2 linked regions of the Homo sapiens genome follow. The gene in region 1 interacts genetically with each later gene. Each region holds a gene or a part of one and is shown on either strand. Other genes may lie near its edges.

What was found.
Region 2: of UTP20 (region 1) and ATG10, changing one suppresses a phenotype caused by changing the other (phenotypic suppression), as found in Homo sapiens cells (one large-scale study listed by BioGRID).

What each region holds. Positions count from the first base shown.
Region 1 is NC_000012.12:101,286,379-101,290,208, forward strand, and holds part of UTP20 (small subunit processome component 20 homolog), read left to right. Parts: coding exon 1-131; intron 132-2,581; coding exon 2,582-2,663; intron 2,664-3,758; coding exon 3,759-3,830. UniProt on the Homo sapiens protein: Part of the small subunit (SSU) processome, first precursor of the small eukaryotic ribosomal subunit.
Region 2 is NC_000005.10:82,055,515-82,059,344, reverse strand, and holds part of ATG10 (ubiquitin-like-conjugating enzyme ATG10), read right to left. Parts: intron 851-3,830; coding exon 743-850; intron 1-742. UniProt on the Homo sapiens protein: E2-like enzyme involved in autophagy. Acts as an E2-like enzyme that catalyzes the conjugation of ATG12 to ATG5. ATG12 conjugation to ATG5 is required for autophagy. Likely serves as an ATG5-recognition molecule. Not involved in ATG12 conjugation to ATG3.

The sequences.
Region 1 (3,830 bases):
TTTTTTTTGACTATCACCTCGATCCTGGAGACTCAGGACACAGAGTTGTTAGAATGGGCTTTCACCTCGTTATCATATCTTTATAAGTACCTGTGGAGACTGATGGTGAAGGACATGTCCAGTATATACAGGTAACCCCTTTCTCTCTCTAGTATGTTTTTTAATTGCCTGCTTCTTTTTCCCTGGCTTCTTTATGACTCCAAACCACTTTGCCAGCTCAGTGCCTAATTGTTTCCATGTACAAAGTTGATTCTCCAGCCAAAGTGGTCCACAATCTAGTCTGCCAGTCTGAGTTGCCATGACCATCTCTCCTCTCCAGCTACTGGAAGTATACCCACCCAAGAAGGCCTGACTCGGTCCCTACAGCCTCCACAAACAGGCACCTTTGCCAGAAGTATTAATAAAATTTTGTACTCTCTATCCTCTTGGCATTTTTTAACCACCTATGTCACACAACTTTTACCAGAATTGTTTGGTTATAATGTATTGCTGTCCTCTCTACACCTGGTATAAGGGAGGTTTAAGACAGGTTAAGAGCCCTGTTTTAAACACTGACATTTCCCCAGCCACTAATACTTACTAAGGTGAAAGAGACACTCAGTATTTGTGAGTAAATGTGGACAAGGAAAGAGAATGAATTTTGTAGTAACCTTTTGTTTAAAGTAAGCATAAATTGTCTTATTATCTGTTTAAGTCTGGGGTTTGGTGGGATTTTCCACTTGGTCTTCCGGTTGTTTTCATGTTCTATAATTGCCACAGGAGTGTTTAATATCAGTCATCAGCCCCTTACCCCACAGTAAATGGTGTATGCATGGTATGGGACAATAGACTTTGTTTTATGCCACCCGTTTCACTCAGCCCACCGTTCTCTTTTAGGAACTTTGAATGAAGAAAGAGAAAGAAATCTTTTTCCAGCCTTTACTAGTTCCCTATGAAGCTTTTGGTCAAATATGTTAGAAACCAATATTATTTCATTAAACAACCAACAAGGTCTTTGGGGAATAATTGATTTAGTTTTATGACTTCAGCTGTCATAAAAGCTGCCACTTTTATGTCTCCTAAGTCAGGCTCTTCAGTTCTAAATTTATTTGCTTTCGGTGTGACAACTTCAGTAGCCTGGCTATTTTCACTTGTATTACTGAAACTGAACTCAACACTTTCCTGTTAAATCAACTCCTCTTATCTGTACATTCATTCAAGTGTTCAGTAAATAGGTATTGAGTGTCTGCCGTATGCCAGGCCCTGTTTGGTTGCCCATTTTCTGTCATTAATACTAACGTTCTTCCTGTCTCTGAGTTTTGGAATATCAGAGGCATCACTAACCCAGTTGTCTTCAGAGGTGTCCACATCCTCTTGATTCTGTCATTCATGCATTTGCTCAGTCAATATTTATTGGACACTGTCTGTATGTCAGGCACTTGAGATACAGTCACAGATAAAACAGATAAAAAATGCTCTTCTCACAAAGTTTACATTTTAGCAGGGGGAGAATGTCTTGGGCACATGCCCGGGAGAAGTTTTAGGTGGCCGAGCAGCCTGTATAAGGGTGAGACTAGCTAAGTGATGTCAGAGAAGCAGTAGTAAGGCGCCAGATCATCCAGGGCCCTGTGGACCGCTGTAAGGTCTTCAGCTTCATTGTGGGCACTCCTGAAATGTCTACTGGGTTCATCCCTTGCCATTTTGCCTCTCCTTCCAGTCTCTTTCATGCCTGTTAGCCCAAGCTTGTATGACTTGAGCACCTTTCTGACTGAATTAGCAGACTCTTCTTTCCTCCTTTATTTTATCCTGTATATTGCTGCCAAATTAGTCTTTCTGAAAATGGTCATTTCTCATTCAGCCAACATTTATTAGTACCTGCTGTCAGCAAGGAACTATTAGGTACTGGGGTTATGAGAAAATTGGAGAGATATATTCCATACCCTTCTATCATTAGGGAGACCAAATTTAACAATGTGATTATATATAAGTAATTATTTAGTTATAGATGCATGGCTGCTTGACCTTGAGCAAGTTGCTTATGCTTTCTGCCTCACTTTCATTATCTGTAGAATGGGAGGATTATAATAGTACCCATCCCATAGAGTTATTGTGCTGATTAAATGGCGTAACACAGAGTAAGTGCTTATACAGATGTAAGCTAGACCTGTCTACCTGACCAACTTTATCCATAGCTGCTCTCCTCTACTGTATCATCTTTCCTCTTTTAGATGGACCAGCCTCCTTGTCATGACCATGATCATTTCCACCTGCCTCATCTTTGCTCTTGCTTTTATACCAATAATATGGACTGCAGTCCCCACCTAATTCTTCTTTCATTCAGAGCTCATTACAAATTTCAACTTTTCCTGGAGTCTTGTTTGTAAAACCAGTACCACCAGTCCTAGGACTCTTCATGTCTGTGGTCAAGTCTTCCTTTCAACATGTGGGTGTCTCCATAAATGAATGAGATTTTAAATTTGTTTGATACCTGCTGTGTATTCCTTGCATACCCAGCACATTGTTGCCCATATTGTTGACATGTAGTATGTATTTATTACAATTATATGATTAATGAAATGTATCTTATTTTTTTCATGTATAGCATGTACAGCACACTCCTGGCTCATAAAAAACTACATATAAGAAATTTTGCTGCTGAAAGTTTTACTTTTTTGATGAGAAAGGTTAGTCTGGTATTTTATCTGTTTGTTGCTAATCATCAAGAATCTGATGAATAGGCCAGGCGTGGTGGCTCATGCCTGTAATCCCAACACCTTGGGAGGCCGAGGCAGGTGGATCACCTGAGGTCAGGAATTGGAGACCAGCCTGACCAACATGGCAAAACCCCGTCTCTACTAAAAATGCAAAAATTAGCTGGGCGTGGTGGCGCGCACCTGTATCCTCAGCTACTTGGGAGGCTGAGACATGAGAATTGCTTGAGCCCAGGAGGTGGAAGTTGCAGTGAGCTGAGATCACACCACTGCACTCCAGCCTAGGCGACAGAGCAAGACTCCATATCACACACACACACACATACACACACACACTAGTAATAATAATAATAATAATAATCTGATGAATAGAAGTAGATATCTTTTAAAAATGTGGTTATTATGGGCTAATTTTTTCTATGTATCTATATATATACTTAACAGAAATCTGTTACTATTTTGAATTTATCTCACAGTAAGACTTATTTGTTGCTCACAAATTGATGTGATCTAATTTGGGTCACTATTGTATTGTTATTTAGGTTTGTGATAGCTTTCAGTGTGTATATATCAAAAATGCTCTCTAATTCAAGTCAGTAAATACATGAACTGTGACATTAACAAGAACTTTTCTAATAGTTTCCTGGAAGTAACTGGTAGCATGGTGTCATTTGTGTTTGTATAAAATATTCATAGTAAATTTTAGAGGGTTTTTGTAATAAAACAAAAACATTAATATTAAATTTTTTATTTCATAAAATACAAATATTTTACTGTATACAATACAAAATACAAATGTATTTACTTTAAAAGATAGAATGTTGACTTCTGTAGTTTTTTTTGTAGTACATATCTTCCTGTAATACCAATGAATTCACTCTTTTGTGTGACATTCCAAGTGAGAACACACTATTAGAGTAGTTTGAAATCATTACAAATGTCTGTTCTTTTCACAATTTTTTCCTAAGTATATTTAAATAACAATATATAGAATAGCAAATGAGAGTTCTTCATTTGGATATGTTTATGTTTGTGAATATAATTTTCCATTTCTACTTTATATTTTAGGTCTCTGATAAAAACGCACTTTTCAATTTAATGTTTCTTGATCTTGATAAACATCCAGAAAAAGTTGAAGGT
Region 2 (3,830 bases), on another chromosome or scaffold:
TGGTAAACTACTGAAGGACATATGGGATATTTTTAAATCCTTTTTATATATTTCTCTATTATTTATTTTTACAATGGGTATATACAATTTTTTTCACAAGAAATACAATAAGGCTATTTGCATTTCGATAAAAAGAAAAATGAAAATATCTCAGAAAACCACTCAGTCATTAGTACCATAATAAAATTTGGTTCAGCAAGATTTTCAAGTCAAGGTTAAAGTCCCCTAAGGAATAAGACCCAGATCCAGCATATTTTCAAGGGAAAAGGGGCTAAAGGCAGAGCAGGCAAAGAGGTCTCCAATCAAGTATTAAGCAGCCTGGGGCTAGGGCTATATTCAGGGAATTTTACTTGGAAAAAAAAATCAATAGACAACAGAAGGCATCTGTGGTATTCAGGTCCAAGAGAAACCAAAAGTATGACGGCTCACTACAATCTGGAGTCAGAGTGGATCTTATATAACTTTACCACAATTCTTGCTTTCAGTATTACAAAGGAAAATACCTCCTTCTCCCCCTACAACAGGCCCAGGATCCAATGGCAATTGGATCTCTCTCCAGTGGGAAGAAGTTTGAAGTTTTTAAAATATTTACTTAACAGAATTAAAGTATTTTATTTCAATATGAGTGCCATATAATTGTGGTGCTTCCATAGGATGGAATGCGATGGAGTCATTAAAGTATACATTTTTAAATGTATACTTTACGGAGACTGAAAAGAACATGATGCATTAAACTACTCACCTCCATGGGAAGACATGTCTGTCCATGGGTAGATGCTCCTAGATGTGACATCACAGACCCATTCTTAATTTGAAAGTGTATTTTGCACATGTAGCCATCAGAACAGTCCTGTGTTTCATCACCAAAAAATATATAAGAAAATGCCAATTATTTTAAGAATTCATCATTTTAAGAACCACTTCCCATAAGTTCCAAACTGATCAGTGAAAAACTAAATGTACTAAATGAGACTATATGGATAAAGAGACTAGTCCAACACCCTGTACGTAGTAAGTACTCAATAAATGCAAGTTTTATTCTCCTACCTCTCTTATTTATTAATGATGTTTCCACCCTCCTAGATTAAACCTTTCCCTTTTTTCCTGACTAGTCCATAGCACCAAGATCACAGAACAAAACTTAAGCTTATAGAAATAGCTTGTCACATAATTAATATTGATTTTCATGGCATACACATAGAGAACAATTTTAGGACTTGAAATAGATCTTGAAGCTGCAAGAAAGCTTCCATTTCAATTTCTTTCTCAAGGCAAGATCTCTATGAAAATGTCCCAGAAAGGTACTTATGCATCTCAGCAACTGCCTGAGTACCTCCAGGAACTGGCCCTTGTTACTCCCTTACACAGCGGTCATTTCCATTTTAGTGCATTGTACATTAAGAAAGTTTTGTCCTGTATTTCACATCCTTTAACTTACTTAGTTCTGCCCTCTGAAGTCTAATCCCTTTTCCACACAGCTGTTCTTCCAAGCGCTGAAGAAATGACCACCATTTGCAAATACTCCTTACAAAATATGGTTTCTGAGCCCTTTACCAGTATTTGTCTCCTGTTTCTTGTACTTGCTCTTAAATACACTAATGAATGATGTTCATCTAATTGTGGCCAGTTCCATTTTTTTAAGGTAACACTTTTTTGAATTCAATAAAGTCATGTGTAAGAATATAATACCTCCCCAAGAACAAACATACATGCCAATAAATATTAATTCCCCACCACATTGTCATACCAACATTTACATTTTAATAGAATTAAAATAATAAGGACTAAGGGGTTAATCTTCCTATAAGAAGAGGGAAATTTGGATGCAGTGACACAAACAGGGAAGAAAGCCATGTGAAGATGAAGACTGGAGCGGTGCATCTAGGAGCTAAAGATTGCCATCAGCCACTGGAAGCTAGAAGCAGTAAGGAATGGTCCTTCCCTAAAGCCTCTGGTGGGAGCAGGACCCTGCCAACATCTTGATTTCAGACTTCTAACCTCCAGAACTGTGAGAGAATAAATTTCTGTTACTTTAAGTCACCCAGTTTGTGGTTCCTTGTTATAACATTCCTAGGAAACTAATACAGTAACTCTATTTTTTAAGACACTTGACAGCACCTTAAGAATGCCTCCCAGTAAGTTGTGCTGACAAACAGCCAGCTCTCACTCAGGGGGCTGCACTGGTTAGTTGTTGATTGGTTAGATCCAACTCATTCTGATTGGTTGATGCCTCTGTCACAGGTTGCTAAATATTTTTAATATCATTCCTGCCTGGAAAGTAGGCCATCAGATATCCAATACTGTCATTTTTAATTATTTCATTAAGGATATCCATTTTGTAGATGGAATTACTGTTTTAAATTCCAGCTCTACACTATCTGACCACAAAGCAGATCCTGTAATGGTCTTCTACCATTGAAACCTTCGTATTTAGAAAAATGTAAATTTAACATTGGCTTAAACTGAGAAAGATATATGTAATGACTGTTGTCATTGCCACTGTTTCACATCAAACATCCATTCTTCCTTCTTTTGGAGCAGTAGTCATTGCTCCTCTAAGGAACAATTGCTCCTCAATTCTCCTGATTGAGAAGGGAATGGTTCCTTAGAGGAGCATTGGCTACTGTTACACTAATTACAGCTCCAGGGATAGACACAGATCTCTGATCCTGCCCATCAGTACTGCCGGCCCCAGAGACTCTGGAGGACAAATGATTACAGCTCCAGGGATAGACACAGATCTCTGATCCTGCCCATCAGTACTGCCGGCCCCAGAGACTCTGGAGGACAAATGATCTACATCACAGCCAATGGGATGAAATTCAGGATTTGGTTTTGGGGGGTTGGGAAAGGTGGCTGTTCTCTTCTCCACTAGGTTTGAGCCAGACAGACCACAAAAAAAAAAAAAAAAAAAACCTGGCAGCCATCATGTAATTAAACGAAGTTGGCTCTGCAACTCAGAGGAAAGCAAGACCATGAGATACAGAGAAACCACATTCTGACTACATTATTTACACCAACCATATCTGAAACTAGTTCTATCTCAGATTTTTCAATTACATGGCCCCAAAAAGTCCCTTCTTTGCTTCACCCAATGGGTTGGGTTTTCTGTCACTTGCAACCAAAATAATTTTGCTATTAAGTAACATAAATTTGTGTTTATTAGTTTAAAAATAGAAGATTTCTATTGTATTGTCAATCTTGAGATAGATAATCAATAGTTGATTATATAAAAGATTTACCATATACAGTCATGCATCACTTAACGGCAGGAATACCTTCTGAGAAACACGTCATTGGGCTATTCTGTCATTGTACAAACATCATAGACTGTGCTTACACAAACCCAAATGGTATGGCCTCCTACATACGTAGGCTATAGACATAGTTGCTTGCTCCTAGGCTGCAAACCTGTACAGCATGTTACTGTATTAATTGCAGGCAATTGTAACAAAATTTGTGTAAAATTTGTAAGTATTTGTGTATCTAAGCATATCTAAACAAAGAAAATGTACAGCAAAAATACAGTATTATAATCTCATGGGAACACTGTACATGTGGTCTGTTCTTGACCGAAATGTCATTATGCAGCATGACTATACGGTAAAACTATAATAGCATGTGTTTGAGAGAAAAATTACCCAAAGTCTGCAATTTCAAAATGATCTAGCCATAGAGATAAAAACCAAAACTCTCAGGATATTCAGAGAACACGGAGCTGCACTGTGTGTACTAAATATAGCTCATTAAATGAGGGTAACTGCTCTATTTTGTATTTTTCAATACCTGAGCCCTGGTCACATAACCTCCTCTTAAGGGAACATAAAATT